2 separate regions of the Homo sapiens genome follow, and region 2 is linked to region 1. The links come from fine-mapping of genetic effects on gene expression. A gene starts in region 1. The other region holds a variant in brackets. All regions are shown on one strand. Distances are between the middles of the regions. Region 1 holds the start of PBX3 (PBX homeobox 3). Region 2 has its middle 13 kb from the start of MAPKAP1.

Region 1 (10,239 bases):
TAGAAAAAAAAAAAGGTAAAATATTAAGTTAAGAAAAATATATTGATAAAGCAATATAATTTATAACATTTCCAAGATACTCTGACTTTGTATTTTTCCTGTTTAATCACTTAATATTTCCAATATAAGCAGACCTAATGCTTAAAATTGATATGAAACTTAAAACATTAAAGAACCATTAAAATTTGCTTCAAAATAATTTTGGAATGGTGGGAATTACAGAGAAAACACGACTGGCCAAGTATTGCTAATTGCTGAAGATGGGCACTGAGTTCATGGGAGGTTCAAGAGTCTCTGCTCTCTGCATGTTATGTTTCAAAGGTGTCCACAATAAAAAGTTGTTAAAATCTTGAAAATAAGTTCATTAAAACAAAATGTGTTTCATGAAAACACAAAAAGGAATCATGTATGGAACAGTGCATTTGTTTTTAAAACTTGAAACAAAAGATGATAATTATATTGGAAATAGTGCAAGAGCAACTTAAAAGCATATGCAAAATATATAATAACATTTAGACTAATATATAACAATTTTCACCTTTCTTGCTAAATTTTCACTTGAAAAAATTGATTTTTACATATGTAGAATTAAAAGAATCACACAGCACTGTACAAAGAAAAATGTAACAGATTTTTATATTGAAACCTTAAAAAGAGAAGCACACCAAAAAAAGACTCCAAAGAGTCTCTAAACCTGTGGGTTCACAATTAAATAGAGAGGTGTCGAATGACAGTACTGCCTTGTCTCTTTGAAAGCTAGTCACACTTCTAGCAATAAAGATAAAAGGTTTAATCTCACATCATATACTAAATGCACATAAAACCTCACTTGTAAACTATACTCTTGATCTAGTTTTAATATCTAAAATTCTTATGACTCTTTCTAGGGAGGGTTCCTTTAAAAGTAAGGCATTTTTACTAGTCATTTTCTTCTCCTTAAACATAAAAAATACTTCAACCAGCCCAACCAACCAAGCAGGCCTTTCTCTTCCCCTGCGGACACCTCCTGCAGTAGAGAAGTTCATTAAGTTTTATGATCTTCCCAAGTCAGTCCTACTTATAAGCCTCACAAAGGCTACAAATCTGGCAAACCATCATGTATGCCATTAGACATTACTAGTAAATGAACGCTATTTAGGGTTTGTGGTGGCAATAAATCAGAGTTTGGTTGGCAGCCATCAACATGGAGTATTTTAACCTATTATTTGAAAAGGAAAAGGTTGTGTTTATTTTTTTTCATGCATAACATTTTTCACAATAATGTGATTCATATTATCTACTAAAATGTGGGATTTCATTTAAAAAATAAATATTTTTTTCTTGAAAAAGAACTATTTCCTTCACTTAAACTCGCACAATTAAGGGCTTTGGAAAGAAGACAAGATTTTTCAGGATGAAATATTTCACAAAGGAAAGCACTTCAACAATTAAGATTAAGATGACCAAAAAGAGGTGGGGGCATACACCAAAAGAGGTATGCAGGTGAGCAGACCTTGTGGCATCAGGGATATTTAATAAGAGACAGATGATAAAATATGGCTTTAAAAATCAGGAGAAAAATCTTAACATATCAACAATAATCTCACTGGTTACTTGGTTTAAAATAAACAACTATTTTTATTTTAAAGCCTACAACTTTTTGGGTGCTCTCAAAATGCACAAATATCACAATTCAACAATGAGAGACATTTCTGCCCAAAAATAATGGTATGATCAATTTTACGAAAGAATATATTCTCAAGAAAAAGCAGCATCTTATAGTAGAAGTATACTTTCCTTACCTCTCAACAAGAAAATAATATAATTGTAGTAGATTACCCATTTATCTGTCAGAAGGGAAAAATACCTTTTCATATATGGTAGAGGGGGAAACAGATGTTTTCTAAACTAAATCCCCCATGTGCATAAGAACTGGCAGTGTTCACTGCCTGATCAGAAACCTCAAAATCCACTGGCAGAGCTACAAATAAACAGATTTTTTTTAAAATGATTTTGTTTTGTTTTAGAAGAAAAGCACAACTGAAATGACATTATCCACTGAAATGACAGTTCACCCTCAACCCCCTTCATTAAGCAGAATAGAGTCATCAACATAATGTTTCTGGTTTCTATTCATAAATGACTAGGTAAACTTTCTCTAAATTACAAAGAATTAATTTTTAGGTATTATTAGATTAAATAAAATGATTTTTAAAAAATATTTATGCAATATACATATATTCTACAATGTTTCTTTTATAAGTTCATGTTTCTAAAGCATGACCGACTATGGAAGCAGGAGTGGGGGGGCTTGGAATTTGCAGCCCCGCTTTCTTTGCTTTGGTAACACTAATGTCTACACAGCTGTTTTATTTCGAATTGAGGATTCTGAGTCCCTGTCTCATTCTAAGACTAGTTTTGGAGAGTGAGGTGAAGCTATGGGTAGTAGGGGAGAATGGAAAGAAGAGAAAGAGCTTCACCCCCATCAATCACTCAGTACTTAAATCCCATCCCTCTCGAGCTTAGAGAGGCTAGCAGGAAGATGCCTCTACCCAGACAGCCGCCTTTACTCTTTGTCGGCTGTTGGCTTTTTACAAAAGAGATAACGTGCAAATGTGGATCCACTGGCCAAAGCACAAAAAGAGAATCTAATTTACAAGTTATCACTGAAAGCCCCAGAAACAATTTTAAAACACAAAAATTTCTTTTGTCAGCTGCCTCTTGGTTTTTAAATAGCAATAGCCCTACCAAAGCTCTCTCTGCCAGTAATCCCAGACTTTGAAAAGATTTGTTTCTTTTTCGTAACTCACCTTTGACATGTGGTTGACTATACTTTCCTTTCAGAATGGTGTAACTAAGTCCTGTGCAAATAAGCAACTAAAGGACTTATGCTTCCTAATTGAATTCTGCCTGCTGCTAAATGTCTCAACATGAAAAGCAGTTTGCTGGGTTTAGTTCTCAAGCTAGCTAGGCCAAAACTTTAAAAAGGCAAAAATAAATAAATAAATACAAATAATGAGAAGGGGATGAGAAGCGATAAGTATCCATCCCCTCTCCCTAGTAATATAAGGCTGTATAAAGTCGAATCAATCTTAATATTCACAACATAGTCAATACCCCAGTGCTTGGCTGTCAGCAGAAACTGAAGTGGAGCCCTGATAGCAGGAAAACCCTTGGACACTAAGCATCAGAATTTACTGAGAATTGCATACTTTTAAGCTTCTAAACTAAGAATCTTCAAGACTGAATGCTAGATGTCTTATTTTACAGTCAGATAAAAATTATCTACTGCTTTAAATCAAAACGCTTTCTAAAGGTAGCTAAAAATCAACACAAAATAAAAGTTAGTAATTCAAGAAAGGATCACTGAGCATTAAGAAACCAGCCATAATATGTGAATGAAAACCAGGAAAAGTACTCTTTGGCCTCCCTTATTATTTGCTGCTTATTATGGTTTAGCATATATATTTAATAGACAGCAATAACTCATCATCTTTTCTTGATTACTTTTAGGATCAGAATAGTATTGCAAAGCGAAAAACCTGTTTCAAAGAAGGCTGACTCGCCTATCAACCTAACAATTATTTGCACTGTGCTATTTGTACACTCAATTTAAACACAATCACATGTAACCTTCTAAATAGCCTCCCTTGGATAGTGCTATATCCTGGACTTCAACTTTTTCTCCTTTGCCTCAACTTTCAAAATGGCAACTTTAAAATACCATACATCCAACACACACCAAAAAAAAAAAAAAAAAGAAAGAAAAGAACAGGAAAAAAATAAACAGTAGAGCTTGTTTAATGTACTTGTTTGCCACATACAGGGAAGATAATGCCAAATACAAACTAAAACATCCAAATCTCTGCTTCAGTTTGAGCAGTTACCTCACGTCAAGACTGAAAGACCTTCAATTAATAAAGTCTGACAAGAAAGTTAAACTGAAACGAATTGCCAAAAATTTGCCAAATATGTACCTGTAGTTTTCATTCCAGCACTTCTGCAAAACCTATCTTCTTATATATTCCCTGACTTGGACACTTCAAAATTGTTTAACCTGCATCTGTAGACCTTTTTATACTTTATATATTAAGCACAGTTACAAGTGTAATGACTTCAGAATACAAAATAATACAAGTATTAACAGATGTAATACATCGTATGTGTCTACACATCATTACCCTTCCTCGATTCTCTAAAGTAGCCTTCCCACCTAAAACACTAATTCAAGCATGCTACTGGGGTCTGTTCAATTGCATCTATTCTTCTATCCGTGCAGCTGAAGCTTAAGACTGTCTAAGTAAAACAAAGTTCGGGCGATGCTTCTCCCGGGGACTCGGTCCTGGCATCCAGTCTCCCGTTGCTCCTTTTAAAAACTGACACACAAACAAGGCGAAAGGAGAGGGAAGAGGGCGGCTGGCGCTCCGGGCCCCCTCCCCGCCTGCAGCCAGGGGCGGCCGCCGAGGGACGGCGATCCAGCCCGGTCCGCACCTACACTTCATTTTACACCAGGAGCAGAACTGAGAAATTGACTCCAGATTTATTGCAGTTTTTTCTCAAGATCAGGACGTGGGAAGGAGAGAATGATCAAAGATGGCGGTGCCCAAAAGCAGCAGCTCTCAACTGGAGAGTCGAAGGAGTAGCTCCGACCCCCACCTCGGGGGTCTCCAGGCCCACTGCGGGGCGCAGCGTCTTACCTGTTTTCTCTTTGATCTCACACAGGACGCTGAAGAGCGCTGGTTTCATTCTGTGACAGTTCAGGGCATGTTTCCTAAAAAACAAATAACGAAACACAAAGGTATTAGCATCACCTATGGAATAATATGGCGCCTTCCTTTAAGTTAGACCCAAGATTTAATTCCAGCCCCCCATTCTGGAAGGCCCTTTTGAACCGTGGGAAGTCAACAAAAACTCCAGTTGACTAGTTCCCGACAGCCAGCAAGCCCCGGCGGCGAAAGCTGCAGCCGGAACAAGGCGGACCCATCTGCCCGGCAGGCAGCAGCCTCGGCCACTGCAGACGCGACGCGAACCCGCGCGGGGAGCCTCGCCCCGGGGGCAGGCGAAGGCGACCCGGGGGAGGGGACGGGTGCGGAGGGGCTCCCGCGTCCGCTCCTGTGCAGAGGAGGCCGGCCGACTGCGGCCAGCGGGAGGGTGACAGCTCGGCAAAGTTTGCAAGGCGGCCCTCCCTCTCCGAGAACTTGGCCGTCCGCACCCGGACCCGCCAGGGAACCGCCCATCGCCCCGCGCCGGGCCCGGGTGGCCGCCCGCATCGCGAGGTCGTCCCGCGGCCGCGGGAGCCGGCGCCGGGACTCCCCGCCGGAGGAGAAAGTTACACTTCCCGGCGGCGCGGCCCGCACGGGGTCGGGGCGGGAGGTTTAAATCCCTGGGAGGGGGCCGGGCTGCGAGGGGCAGGACGGGGGAAAGGACGCCACGGAATCCGCGCCGCACCGAGTCCGTCCCGAGCCCCCCAGAGCAACTTTGCCGACTCCCGCCCGCTTCGGGGGGCGCGGGCAAGTCCCCCCGAGGCCGGGGCGGGCGGCCGGCTTTCGGAGAAAGTTCCCCGCCGGGGGCTGCGGCCCTAGCCCCGGGCGCCACCCCGGGCCTCGACTCGGCCGCGGGCCCGGCTCCCGCACACACACAAAAGATGCTTAATGAGACGACACCAACTTTGCTTGCGCCTCGTCCAAGCTCTGGTCGGTGATGGTCATGATCTGGTGGAGGATGTCGCCGATGTCCTGCTTCCTGCCGTCGCCGTCCGCCCCTTCGTGGCCGTGCGGGGGAGGCGGCAGGGCCATGCCCCCCTGCACCGAGTGGCCAGCCAGGTTCACCCCGGCCAGAGTCTGCAGCATCCTGGATTGATCGTCCATCCCGCCGCGCGCGGGCGGGAGCGGGCGGCGGCTGAGGCGAAGGCTGAGGCGGCGGCGGCGGCGGCGGCGACGAGGGAGGAGAAGAAAGAGGGGGAGGGGGAGGGGGAGGCGGCCGCGCGCTCCCCGCCCGCGCGGGGAGGGGGCGGCCCGGCCGGCAGGGCCCGCGGCTGAGGCGATGAGGACGGGCGCCCGGCTCCGGCTTCCGCCGCCGCCGAGGCTGAGGAGAAGCGGCGGGCGGAAGCGCCGGGCTCCGCGGCGGTGGCGGAGGCGGAGGCGGCGGCGCCCGCTGCCCTCACGCGGCCGCCGCGCCGCCTCCTCGCCGCCGCGCGCCCCGCCGGGCGGCCCCGCGCAACTTGCTCCTCAGCGCCCGCCGAGTTGCCGGGACGCCCGCCGCCCCCCGCGCCAGCCTGCGCACTGCCCTCCTCGGCCGCCGCCGCCGCCTCGGCCAGGCGGGATCCGAGCCCCGGCGGCCCCGGGGGAGGCAGCGGCGGCGGCGGCGGGCGGCGGCGGAGGAGGAGGCCTGCGGGCGGGCCGCGGGGAGCGAGGGGGGGCGGAGGAGGAAAGTTTGGGAGCGGGCGGGCAGAGGCGGCGGGGGCGCTGAGCCCGGAGGAGGGCCCCGGCGGGCCGCGCGCCGGGCGGACAGCCGATGGATAGGGCGGGAGAAGTCGCCGCCGCCGCCGCCGGAGCCGCGCACCCAGCCAGCAGCCGCCGCGGACCGGGCTGGAAGGCCGCTGGGCCGAGGGATTGACAGGCTGCCAGTGCCACTCACTCACTGCGGCCCCGCGCCGGGGGGAGGGACGGGGGCTGGCAAGGGCGGGGGAGCGCTCCTCAGACCCCGCCCCCGGGGCGGTGCGCGCGCTCATTGGGCTCTGCGCCTCCCGCCGCCGCCGCCGGCACCGCCCCCGGGGCCCGGCCCGTTCCCTCTGGCCTCTGATACTCCGCGCTCCGGAGTGTGCCGCCGGATCCTCGCTCCAACCTCGTCGCGTCCTAGCCCCCCGGGATAGACCGGGCCGGCCCACAAACGGTGTGCCCGCACCCCGACTCCTGCTCCATGCTTTTGGCAGTCATGGGAGCGGGGGGTTGTGTATGGGACAGTGGGCAACTCGCTGCAAAGCCAACCGTGTGCTCCCCCGCCGCGCCCGTGAGCTTCACGCCTCGGACAGCTCCTGGTGCACTTTCCCGCTCTTCCTGTCAGGAGGTGGTGCCCTCTGGGTACCAGGCCGCTCGTCCCGGGCCAATCGCAAAGCGCTTAGAGCCGAATGGGGCGGGACAGAGGCAAGAAAGGGTCGTCCCAATTGGAGCGTTCGAAAGGTTCTGGGCAGAGGCGGGGAAGCGGCGAGTGGGGGCCTCGCCCCGCCTGCGGTCGCCATGGTAACCGAGAGGGCGCAGCTCAGCGTTGGCGCCAGCACCGGGGTCTTGTGCTGTCCCTCAATGGGTGACCAGTTAAGGTGGGAACCTGTGGTCTCACATACTTGAAGTCTGAGCTGAGTGGACCTGACTGCCATAGACTTTCCATTGAAAGGGGAAATGTGTCAGAGAGAAGCGAGTCTGGGAGGAGGGAAAGTGCCTTCAGTCCAGGACTAATTTCAAGGTTTACAACACTTTACACACTCTGCAACTCCTGATAATCCAGGGACTACTCCTTTGGCAGCGTTTGCTATTCGATGCCTCCAGATGTACTGAAGCTGCAAAAACGAGCTCTTCATTACAAAGATACGTTTGTTTAGGAAGAGACTGGATTTCACTTGTCAACTTACCCCATCACCACGAGTCATTTAATGTTGGTAACGCCAGCCACGATTTTTCGTATCTATAACACCCCTTCTTCCATTGAATTCTACCTACAAATAACTGAAGGCTCACATTATTTTGGAATATGGACCTCCGCCTCTTGTGGAGACTTGAGATTGCTCTTAAGCTGATTTCCCAAACAGGGGCTGCAATGTGTGTTCCCGATTTTAGATTCATTGAGCTCACCCTAGATGAGTCCTTTGGTTCGGTGGTTCGGAAAAGTCTCTTTGTTCCTTCTCCAAACTCAGTAAGCTGTCTTACCTGAAACCAAAAATAGGGGTATGAGGATATGAAAAATGGCTCTTACTCTGCAGGGTTTAATGTAGGACAAGCAGTTCTTTAAATGCCAGATGGATTCTTGGAATGAAGCAGGCTACTCGGTTCCAGGTTCTTTCCTTCATATGTTGTGTGTACTTTTAAATACTCCCCACTGCAAAGCTAATAGCTAAGCTTACAGTTAGGCAAGCTAAAATCCTTACAAACTGCACAGCTGCTGAGGAGGGAGTTCCAAAAAATCCACTCTGCTTACTTACCTCCAAAGAAGAACCCCCTTCATGTTCATTAATATTCTCTGCTCTTCTATACCCCATTGATATGTCAAGTTTCCAATTCTTCTTTGAAGCCCCCATTATGGGTTACTTATAATCGTCATTGATTGGGTTTTTTCTTTATTCTTAATTTGTTTTTTAAAGCTGTCACCAAATTCTTAAGCATTTTTGCCAAAAGGCGCAGGAGCAAGCGGTCAACCTTTCATAATTCTCCAACGCTGAGGATGCAAAACCACAGAATTCTAACTGAAAGATGCCTTAAATTCTAAGATTCCTTCCAGCTGTAAAATTCAATAATCCTGTGACTCACTATTAGGACTCCTCTCTGCCCTCCTTCTAGACTCATAATCTTGACTAATCAGTCATGAGGATGAGGCTAATTAGCAATGGGGATTTATGGTTATTTCTAGCCCACTCCGAACAATGAGTTATGTAAGCAAAGCAACATATATAAAAATGTAAATAGGCCGGTGGCTCATGCCTGTAATCTCAGAACTTTGGGAGGCCGAGGCAGGTGGATCACAAGGTCAGGAGTTGAGACCAGCCTGGCCAACATGGTGAAACCCCATCTCTACTAAAAATACAAAAAATTAGCTGGGCTTGGTGGCAGGCGCCTGTAATCCCAGCTACTCAGGAGGCTGAGGCAGGAGAATCACTTGTACCCAGGAGGTGGAGGTTGCGGTGAACTGAGATTGTGCCACTCCCCTCCAGCCTGGGCGACAGAGTGAGACTTCTTTTCAAAAAAAAAAAAAAAAAGTAAATAAAGAAACACTTAAGCAAATAAAGGCAATTGGGAACTATGGGCTGTGTAAACACACTGGAACATAAAAACATAAATTAGAATTAAGAAAACAGTTAGGCAAATGCCAGCAATTAGGAATAAAACAACTTGTTAAATGTCTAACACCCACAGTTATTTTATGGTACACTCCTCTACACCCATGGTCATTCAGTGATGTGGAAACTTGATACCATAATTCTGCCTTAAGTGATTGAATTAGACTGACCTTCTGCTTGGGAGGCTTCTCTTTTTGTTGTTATCAGTATGAGTTGCAGTAGAAGCCTGAGGACCCTAGCAAGGATTCCTTCACAGGCTCATTGACAACTGCCGTTGATTTAAAGCATAACTTTTTTAGACTGGTTTCCAAGCCTCAATATAACTGTCAACTAATTGCAGATGTTCCAGGATCTCTTGGTGCTCGTGCCAGTGTCTCATGTAGAATGTTGCGTGATCTCTGCTCAAGAATCTGAGTCACAAGGTTGATGCCTTCACAGATGACAGAACAGAAGTTCCCTGAGTACCCGAGTCTGTCTTTGCTGTTTCTAAGGTAGTGATTATTAAAATGTCAAGGGAAATGAAATTGACTTTTGGTGAGCAGACATTCATGTAAAGTTAACAGTGACAAAGTGGTGAAAACCAAGCAGATGTTCCTTCATGGCCATCCCTTTCCATGAGTTTATATTAACATCACCATTGCCTCTGTCATCAATAGGGTGACTATCACAGCAGATGCCATTATTGAGCACTTTCTTTGGGGGTACACTATCCTCTGTGTTCCCTTGCTTCATCTTATTACAGTCTCACAACAGCCTGCTTGGGATTGTTATTAAATAAGAAATAGAATGAGAGAGAGTAAGAAATTTCCACAAGACCACAAAGCCAGTAAGTACTAGAGCTTGAATTCAAATATTGATCTATGTGGCTGCAAAGACTACCGTATAAAACACTGTGCAAAAAAGTAATTTAGCCAGGCTGGTGACATGCAACTGTAGTTCCAGCTACTTTAGAGGCAGAAACAGGAGAATCACTTGAGTGCAGTAGTTTGAGGCTGCAGTATGCTATGATCACACTTGTGAATAGCCACTGCACTCTAGCTTGAGCAAAGTAGTGCTACCATTTCTCCTAAAATTTTTTTAAAAGTTATTTAAGATTATGAAGTAAAAATCACAAGACCTTAACAGATAAACTGAAAAATTAATGAAAATAAGTAACTAGGTGCTTAATAAAGAGAGAATAAACAGCTATATTAGAGGAATCCAGGTCTCAAGGCAGG
Region 2 (10,239 bases), 28 kb after region 1:
CAGGTGATCTCTGAGTATTTTTTAAAATACCCTAAAAGTGGGAGGGGCAAGGTGAATATTTCCACTCAGGAAAGTTGGTATTTCCAGGGAATGTTTAATATATGCAGTGATTAGCACAACTTTTTGCTGTTTAACCTTCTTACTCACCAGTGTGTTTTCAAGGTCTTCTTATGGGACAGACAGGGCATCTTGATTAAAAGTCAGAGCTTTGGTCAGACCTGAGTTTACATGTCCACTCTGCAAGTGATCTTCAATAATATCCTTAACTTCTCTTTTTTTTTTTTTTTTTTTGAGATGGAGTCTTGTTCTATCACCCAGGCTGGAGTGCAATGGCATGATTTCAGCTCACCGCAACTTCCTCCTCCCAGGTTGAAGTGATTCTCCTGCCTCAGCCTCCTGAGTAGCTGGGATTACAGGTGTGCACCACCATGCCCGGCTAATTTTGTATTTTTAGTAGAGACAGGGTTTTGCTATGTCTGTCAGGCTGGTCTCGAACTCTTGACTTCAGGTGATCCACCTGCCTTGGCCTCCCAAAGTGCTGGTATTACAGGCGTGAGCCACTGTGACTGGCCTAAAAATACCCTTCACTTCCCTAAGCCTCAGTTCTTCATCTCTGAAGTGGGTGCCATGACAGTAACTGTTTCTTAGTGTTAGCATTAAAAGAGGTGGCGTGTGCAAAACATGTGTTCCATAAACATAAGGGAGAAATTCTAAGTCGGGTAGTAAAGTTCTTTTCTGATTTTATGGCACATTGTATGCAGCAAATCCAAACCACACCTTTTCCTTGGTGGTTGTGAAGGGTCTGTTGTTGTTGTTTGAGAGAGTCTCACTCCGTCGCCCAGGCTGGAGTCCAATGGTGCGATCTCTGCTCACTGCAACCACTGCCGCCTGGGTTCAAGTGATTCTCGTGCCTCAGTCTTCTGAGTGGCTGGGATTACAGGGGCCTGCCACCACGCCCAGCTTATTTTGGTATTTTTAGTAGAGACAGGGTTTCACCATGTTTGCCAGGCTGGTCTCAAACTCGCGACCTCAAGTGATCTGCTCACCTTGGCTTCCCAAAGTGCTGGGATTACAGGTGTGAGCCACCACGCCTGGCCGTGAAGTTCTAATTCTTTATTTCCCTCTCCCTTCCAGAATGTCCTCTGCAGGCATTGTTTCCTTTGTCCTCTAAGCAGCATGCTCCTTCCATGCGGACTTCTGGCTCCTGAAAGGTAATTTGCAATGGACAGCATGACTATTGTTTTACCCAGAATTGATAACATGGAAAAATGAACATTAAACGAGTTAGGGCTTTTTTAGTTTTCAATGACCTTGCCCGTTAAGAGAATCAACTGGCTTTTTCCCAATGCGGGTCAAAAAATTAAACGGAATTGTTCCTGGGTTGTCACAGCTGAATTGTCTGGTTCTCCCACTCTCATCCCCACCAGGGAGAAGGAGAAGAACAGGCTATTATGAGGATCAGTCCACGGCAGGATTTTTTATGTGTGACTTTGGAGGGCAGGGGGGAAGCCACAAGAGTAAGTCCAACATGGGAAGCTGTCATTCGAAGGAGCTTGTCAGAAGGCAGGAGGAAAACACGGAGAAGAGCCTATAGCAGGAAAAGACCAGTCTGCCTCAAGTGCCTAAAAGAGTGGGGCCACAGGATCCAAACCGACAGCACATCAGAGATTGGAAAATAGGTTAAACTATTATAGAACAGAGTTGTGGTTAAGATCCCACCCTCAAAGGGTTCAAACCCAGCTGGGCCCTTCCCATTTGCGAATTTGGGCAGATTGCTGCTCTACTGCAAAGTTCAGTTTTCTCATCTGTGAAATGGGACTACCATAAAATTAGAATATTTATGTCTTAGGGCGATTTTAAAATTATTTAATTTTTGTTTATTTATTTATTTCTGAGACAGGGTCTTGCTCTGTCACCCAGGCTGGAGTACAGTGGTGTAATCATGGTTGCAACCCCGACCTCCCAGGCCCAAGCAATCCTCCTACCTTAGTCTCTCAAGTAGCTAGGACCACACGCGCGTGCCACCATGCCCAGCTAGGTTGTGTGTGTGTGTGTGTATAAAGACTATCTCCCTATGTTGCCTATGCTGGTAGGGTAGTTTTAAAGACATCATACTTACAAAGTACTTCACTAAGGTCTTATAATTCTTCAAATAACTACATTTCTGCTCAAACACTACCAGTCAGTGAGCCACCCCCATCATCCCATCTACTTAAAATTGAATCTCAACCCAGCACTTCTTGTCCCTCTTCTCTGCTTTATTTTCTCCATAGCTAAATATCACTCTTATGCGATCTGAGGGATTACTTATAAATATTTTCAATATTGTCATTCTCCTTCCATTAGAATTTAAACTCCTTGAAGGGAGAATCTTTTGTCTGTTTTGTTCACTGATTCTATCCCTAGCATCTTGACACAGTGCCTGGGCAGGTGCTCAATAAATCGAGTTGTTGAGAAGCCGGGCGCGGTGGCTCACGCCTGTAATCCCAGTACTTTGTGGGGCTGAGGTGGGTGGATCACGAGGTCAGGAGATCGAGACCAACCTGGTGAACATGGTGAAATCCCGTCTCTACTAAAAATACAAAAAAAAAATTAGCCGGGCGTGGTGGTGGGTGCCTGTAGGCCCAGCTACTCAGGAGGCTGAGGCAGGAGAATGGCGTGAACCCGGGAGGCAGAGCTTGCAGTGAGCAGAGATCTTGCCACTGCACTCCAGCCTGGGCGACAGAGCGAGACTCCGTCTCAAAAAAAAAAAAAAAAAAAAAAAAAAACAAAAAAAAACCGAGTTGTTGAATAAATAAACAATGGCCAACATTATCATCACCATTCCGGGTCAGAAATGCTTGACAACCCCTTGGGACAGGAAAGTAGGGGAAGGTAAATATTTTAAAAATTGGGGTAGCGGCTGGGCACAGTGGTTCACGCCTGTAATCCCAGAACTTTGGGAGGCCGAGGAGGGTGGATCACCTGAGATCAGGAGTTTGAGACTAGCCTGGCCAACATGGTGAAACCCCGTCTCTACTAAAACCACAAAAATTAGCCGGGCGTGGTGGCTCGTGCCTGTAGTTCCAGCTACTTGGGAGGCTGAGGCAGAGAATCGCTTGAACCCAGGAAGTGGAAGTTGCAGTAAGCCCAGATCACACCACTGTGCTCTAGCCTGGATGACAGAGCGAGACCCTGTCTCAAAAATAAATAAATAAATAAAAATAAAATATAATAAAATGGGGATGGGTGAGGCTTGACCGTCTCAAAAAAAATTGGGGTAGCTAATTGTAAATTTTTATCGGGTCCTGAATGAAGCTTCCATATCTTGTCCTTCACATCACCCATGAAGAGCATCCTGAGAGACGTCTTTAGGGCAACGGATGAAGAGGAAGGAGCAAAGCCATGACCAGCTGAGACCCAACCAAAAGAAGGGAACAGGCTATACTGCTGGCCCTGGGAAGGGGAGCTCAGGGCTCAAAGTCTGGGGTCTTGGTCAGTGGGGGGTACATTTGTTACAATTAATGTTTCTGTGACTGATAGGGAGCAATGGATTTTCATTTTAAATATTTGTTTATTTTCTTATCTATTTTTCTGATTATACAAACAATATTGATTATGTTCTCTTTGAAATATTTTTTATTTTTTATTATATTTTAAAATTTCATTATTATTATTATTATTTTTGAGACAGAGTCTTGCTCTGTCACCCAGGCTGGAGTTCAAACAATTCTCACTGCTTCCTGGGTTCAAGCAAGTCTCCTGCCTCAGCCTCCTGAGTAGCTGGGACTACAGGCGCGTGCCACCAGGCCCAGCTAATTTTTTGTGTTTTTAGTAGAGATGGGGTTTTACCATGCTGGCCAGGCTGATGTCAAACTTCTGACCTCGTGATCTGCCCGCCTCGGCCTCCCAAAGCGCTGGGATTACAGGCTTGAGCCATCATGCCTGGCCAATTTCATTATTTTTTTTTTCTCAAGACAGAGTCTCACTCTGTCACCCAGACTGGAATGCAGTGGCATGATCTTGACTCACTGCAACCTCT[A/G]CCTCCCGGGTTCAAGCGATTCTCATGCCTCAGCCTCCTGAGCAGCTGAGAGTACAGACGCCTGCCACCACACCTGGCTAATTATTGTATTTTTATTAGAGATGGGGTTTCACCATGTTGGCTAGGATGGTCTCGAACTCCTGGCCTGAAGCAATCTTCCCGCCTCAGCCTCCCAAAGTGCTGGGATTACAGGCATGAGCCACCACACCCAGCCTGAAATATTTTTCAAAAAATATTTCATAGCCAGGCACTTTGGCTCATGCCTGTAAACCCAAAACTTTAGGAGGCTGAGGCAAGAGGATCACTTGAGTCCAGGAATTGGAGACCAGCTTGGGCAACATAGTAAGACCCCCATCTCTACAAAAAAATTAGCCAGGCTTGCCTGCGGACATTCACAAACAACTCCAGAGATTAACCCCAGGGAGGAACTGCAGGTATACAGGAACACTCAAGGAGGACTTCAGCTTTATATTTATGTTGTTTGTTTGTAGTTATTTTTTGAGACAGAATCTTGCTCTGTTGCCCGGGCTGGAGTGCAGTGGTGCCATCACAGCTCACTGCAACCTCAATCTTTCAGGCCTAAGCGATTCTCCTACCTCAGGCTCCTAAGTAGCTGGGACAACAGGTGTGCACCACTATACCCAGCTAATTTTAAAATTATTCTGTAGAGACATGGTCTCACTATGTTGCCCAGGCAGGTCTAGAACTCCTGGACTCAAGTGATCTTCCCACCTCGGCTGGCTTCCCAAAGTGTTAGGATTACAGATGTGAGCCACTGCGCCTGGTGCTTTGTTTGTTTGTTTGTTTTGTTTTGTTTTTACTGGAGAATGGTATTAAAAAAAACACAGGATCTTGGCAATAGGTGTACACTCATGGTGAGTGAATTTATTTTTTTAGGATTACACATTCAGGAAAACGGAAAATGTCTAAATACTACATTTTTAATTCAAAATGAAAAGTTATTAATTAAAAATCGCTATTGTGGAATCTGAAGGAAAAATTTGTACTTCAAAAACTTATGCGGCCAGGCAGCCATGGTGGCTCACGCCTGTAATTCCAGAACTTTGGGAGGCCAAGGCAGCCAGCTCACTTGAGGTCAGGAGTTTGAGACCAGCCTGGCCAACATGGTGAAACCCCGTCTCTACTAAAAATACAAAAATTAGCTGGGTGGGGGGGCTCATGCCTGTAATCCCAGCTACGCGGAAGGCTGAGGCATGAGAATCGCTTGAACCCGGGAGGCGGAGGTCGCAGTGAGCGGAGATTGCGCCATTGCATTCCAGCCTGGGTGACAGAGTGAGACCCTGTCTCAACAACAACAACAAATGCAACTTATGGTCCTGGCGAGGTGGCTCAAACCTATAATCCCAGCACTTTGGGAAGCTGATGCTGGCAGATCACTTGAGGTCAAGAGTTTGAGACCAGCTTGGCCAACACGGCGAAAACCCATCTCTACCAAAAATACAAAAAGTAGCTGGTTGTGGCGGCATGTGCCTGCCTGTGGTTCCGGCTACTTGGGAGGCTGAGGCAGGAGAATCGCTTGAACGAGGAGGCGGAGGTTACAGTGAGCCGAGATCGCACCACTGCACTCTAGCCTGGGCAATGGCGAGACTCTGTCTCAAAAAAAACCAAAAAAAAAAAAAAAACTTATGTACTTCTTGAAGAAAGAATGTTAAAATCTAGACTTTTTTCTTTCCTTTCTTTCTTTCTTTCTTTTTTTTTTTTTTTTAAGATAGTGTCTCCCTCTGTTGTCCAGGCTGGAGTGCAGTGGCAGGATCGCTGCTCACTGCAACCTCTGCTTCTGGGGTTCAAGTGATTCTCTTACCTCAGCCTCCTGAGTAGCTGGGATTATAGGCACCCACCACCACACCCAGCTAAGTTCTTTACATTTTAGTAAAGAGCAAGTTTCACCATATTGGCCAGGTTGGTGTCGAACTCCTGACCTCAGGTGATCCGCCTCCCAAATTGTTGGGATTACAGGCGTGAGCCATGGCGCCCGGCCAAAATCTACAGACATCTTTGAGAGGCAGATTTACATCTTTTGTACCATACATACATACAACATTTTGTCACTCAAAAAATGGCATCATATGATTCTGCCCAGGTAGAGTCTATAAATGGGAAAACCATTCCACTCCATAAATGGGAAAACCGAGACACAGAGAAGAGGTGTGACTCTGACCACCGAAGTCACAAATGAGCTGAAGCCAGAATTAGCTTCTTTCATTCAAAGCAACACTTTGTGCCGAGATTTTGTCAAATAACTGGGAAATACAAAGATGAACAATTTGCAGCTCCACTCCTCTTTATTAATTTTATTTATTTATTTATTTATTTATTTATTTATTTATTTTGAGATGGAGTCTTGCTCTGTCGCCCAGGCTGGAGTGCAGTGGTGTGATCTCGGCTCACTGCAACCTCTGCCTCCTGGGTTCAAGCAATTCTGCTGCCTCAACCTCCCTAGTAGCTGGGCCTACAGAGGCGTGTCACGACGCCCAGCCAGTGTTTTGTATTTTTAGTAGAGATGGGGTTTCACTGTATTAGCCTGGATGGTCTCAATCTCCTGACCTCGTGATCCGCCCACCTCGGCCTCCCAAAGTGCTGGGATTACAGGTGTGACCCACCGCACCCGGCCACTCTTTATTTTCTAGAGCCTCTTTCTCTAGCATAATCTCCAGATTATGCAGGAAATTGTACTTGGGTTTGAGGAGAATAACAGGTTCTCCCAGGTGAAGAGGGTTTTGAGACTTTCTCCTTAACTATACCCTCTCCCCACCAATACCTCTGCTATGCAAAGGCAGAAATTCATTCTTAGGCTGTTTCCTAAAGCCAGACCAGGGGCTCAAACTCAAGTACCTGTAAGGCCTGTCAGGTCAAGCAAATGAGTGCTGCAGGCCAGGTATGACAAAAGCCACAGCCCAAGTGTCATGATGTGTAGCGGCTGCCACCTGGCCTTCATTACATCCACCAGTCATCACAACAACCAGGTAGCCTGATTGTTGACAAGGGGGCTGCAGACACAATGTCGCTAATCTTTCCAATTTTTCAAGAAAAGCAGAAAAGCTCTAAGCAGGCCAAGACTGTGTCTTCAGCCTTCAGACTACTTGTTTTTTTTGTTTGTTTAGTTTAGTTGTATATTACTTCTGAGCTAGTATTTATTAATTGTTCTAGGTACTAGTTTCGCTTAAACTCATTTCAGAGGCAGTATTCTTTCTTTCTTCTTTTTTTTTTTAGACGGAGTCTCACTCTATTGCCTAGGCTGGAGTGCAATGGCGCAATCTTGGCTCACTGCAACTTCTGCCTCCCTGGTTCAAGTGATTCTCCTGCCTCAGCCTCCCAAATAGCTGGGATTACAGGCATGCACCACCACGCCTGGCTAATTTTGTATTTTTAGTAGAGACGGGGTTTCACCATGTTGGTCCAGCTGGTCTCAAACTCCTGACCTCAGGTAATCTGACCACCTTGGCGTCCCAAAGTGCTGGGATTACAGGCATGAGCCATTGCGCCTGGCCTCAAATATCCTCTTAGATCCAGGGCAACATCTGCTTTCCTGGCTTGTATAAATTCTAGCACAGTTCACATGCCTATATGGGTGCTTAATAAATACTCTTTGAAGGTGATGATAATAAATTGAGATTTGGAAAACCTGAAACCTCTTTCTAGGAGCATGGCTCAGAGGGTGGAATGCTTTAGAAAGAGTCCCTGTGGGGCCTGGTACGGTGCTCATGCCTGTAATCCCAGCACTTTGGGAGGCCTGAGGCAGGCAGATCACCTGAGGTCAGGAGTTCGAGACCAGCCATGGCCAACATGGTGAAACCCCGTCTCTACTAAAACAAAATTAGCCAGCGTGGTGATGTGTGCCTGTAATTCCAGCTACTTGGGAGGCTGAGGCAGGAGAATCGCTTGAACCCGGGAGGCGGAGGTTGTGGTGAGCTGAGATCTCACCATTGCACTCCAGCCTGGGCAACAACAGCGAAACTCCATCTCAAAAAAAAAAAAAAAAAAAAGTCCCTGTGAGAAAAGGCAAAAGGAATTGGGGTTACTAATAACGTATCATGGAGAAAAGAAGGTTAAGGAGAATTTAATAGCCATCTTCAAATATCTAAAGGGATATTGCTCATGTGTTTTAAACATCAGTTCTTGTCTACTAAGGACAGGACATGAGGGAATTATCTTAAATGGGAGCAGGAGGGACTTAGATTAGATATCAATGGGGGGAAAATCCCAGCAGAAAGGATCGTGAGATGCTGGAAGGCAACATGATGTAGTGAAAGGACATGGTTATTTTCACAACAAGGGCTGCTCATTATCATTGTGGGAAGTGTGGCGCTTGGGGCTTCCAAGTCAGCCAGTTACTAGTTGTATGATCTTGAGCAAGTGACTTCACCTTTCTGATGCTCAGTTTCCTCATTTGTTAAATAGGGATAATAATAACATCTATCTATTGGATTGTTATGAGGATTAAATAAGACTAGGGGTACAAAGCCATTAGGCCAGGCCTGGCCCAAAGTAAGGCTCAACCAATAATGGACGCCATTCATTACTGTTAATCAGCTACAGTCTTACCTGGGAAAACCTACCTTACATGTAGACACAAGCTCCCTTTTCAGGCACATCAAATGAACAAATACGGTATTCCTGTGTGTTGTAGGACTTATAGCTCACTAAGGACACATGATGTGAACGCTCAGAAAGTTCAATAAATAGAATATTTTAAATAGTGGAGCTAATAGAGTGAAGTGGTCAAGAGCATGGCGTCAATAAAATATATGAGCACTTAGAATAGTGCTTGGCATCTTGGAGTTGTTTGCCCCTGATAGAACAAAAGCACAGTCAAGGTAAGGTAAATTTTTTATTTTTTTATTTTTTGAGATGGAGTCTCACTCTGTCGCCCAGCTCACTGCAAGCTCTGCCTCCCGGGTTCACGCCATTCTCCTGCCTCAGCCTCTGGAGTAGCTGGGACTACAGGCGCCCGCCACCACGCCTGGCTAATTTTTTGTATTTTTAGTAGAGATGGGGTTTCACTGTGTTAGCCAGGATGGTCTCGATCTCCTGACCTTGTGATCCACCTGCCTCAGCCTCCCAAAGTGCTGAGATTACAGGCATGAGCCACCGCGCCCGGCTTTTTTTTTTTTGAGATGGAGTATCCCTCTGTCACCCAGGCTGGAGTTCAGTGGCCTGATCTTGGTTTACTGCAACTTCCGCCTCTCAGGTTCAAGCAATTCTCCTGCCTCAGCCTCCTGAGCAGCTGGGACCACAGGCGTGCATCTCCATGCCTGGCTAATTTTTGTATTTTTAGTAGAGACGGGGTTTCACCATGTTGGCTAGGCTGACTTCGAACTCCTGACCTCAAGTGATCTGCCCTCCTTGGCCTCCCAAAGTTCTGAGATTACAGGTGTGAGCCACTATGCCCAGCAGGTAAAACCAATTTTTAAGTGAAAGGTTCAAAAAGACCCATAGGAGTTTTCAGGTGGGAGAAATTGCTCCAAATTAGTGTAGGCCAAGCAGGTAGGTAAGATTTGAATCCACGAGTCTGTAAATACACTTTCTCGGAAGGGTCTTGGTTATCTCAAATAATGATTAGTTATTCACTATTTGGGTGTCCTGTGCTTTTATTCTTCAATCATTGTAGGCACTACGTTGAATACCTGATTTGTCAGCTTTGAAGAAGGACAGCTATGCATTTCTGATATTTTGAATACACCCAAGAAACAGTGTTCTACATTGGGATTGCATTCTATAAACTTTACTTCAGAGCAATTATAACTGCTGCACATTTAAGTTACTAATATTTATTGAAATATTTTAGCTACAAAAACATTTTATGTTCACTATTATTTATTAATGCCCAGTTTTAAAATATTACACATAAAATTTATTCCAGTGCACATTAGTAAATAAATTATGCTTGTAATTTCTAATGCATTTTTAATTATAAATTTATCCATGTCTACCTTTATTTATGATAGTGGTGTCTCACTGTTGAACATACTGTATATTAATGGAGACACTGTTAATTATACATTCTTGGAAGTTGCATTCGACAAAACATACGAGTCTGTTTTTTACGTTCTAAGTACTGTTAACATCAATTAATTTAGGGGCTGGCACTCACAGTACTAGCTAACCTTTAAAGCAAGAAAAGGTACTATTAGAAGCTGGTTACAGGACCTGGATTTTGGAAAGGGACTACAAATATAAATGTAGCCGGAAAGATGTTC

The links. PIP is the estimated chance that this variant, and not a neighbour inherited with it, causes the effect. A credible set is the group of variants that fine-mapping cannot tell apart.
Region 2: its variant is the best candidate, but not a certain one, in a credible set for the expression of PBX3 in unexposed skin (GTEx, PIP 0.62).

Annotation. Positions count from the first base shown.
Region 1 is chr9:125,743,061-125,753,299 of GRCh38, reverse strand. PBX3 (PBX homeobox 3) reads right to left here and starts at 5,927. Exons shown (of 9, transcript NM_006195.6): 1 at 5,647-5,927; 2 at 4,677-4,750. The coding sequence starts at 5,846. PBX3-DT (PBX3 divergent transcript) reads left to right here and starts at 7,371. Exons shown (of 2, transcript NR_122032.1): 1 at 7,371-7,884; 2 at 9,363-9,546. RefSeq lists silencers at 4,953-5,292, 5,563-6,092, 6,103-6,152, 6,403-6,832.
Region 2 is chr9:125,715,131-125,725,369 of GRCh38, reverse strand. No RefSeq gene overlaps it. Among named protein-coding and RNA genes, the nearest start is that of MAPKAP1, 13 kb to the right of the region's middle. The variant A/G (reference allele first, on the strand shown) is at 4,022.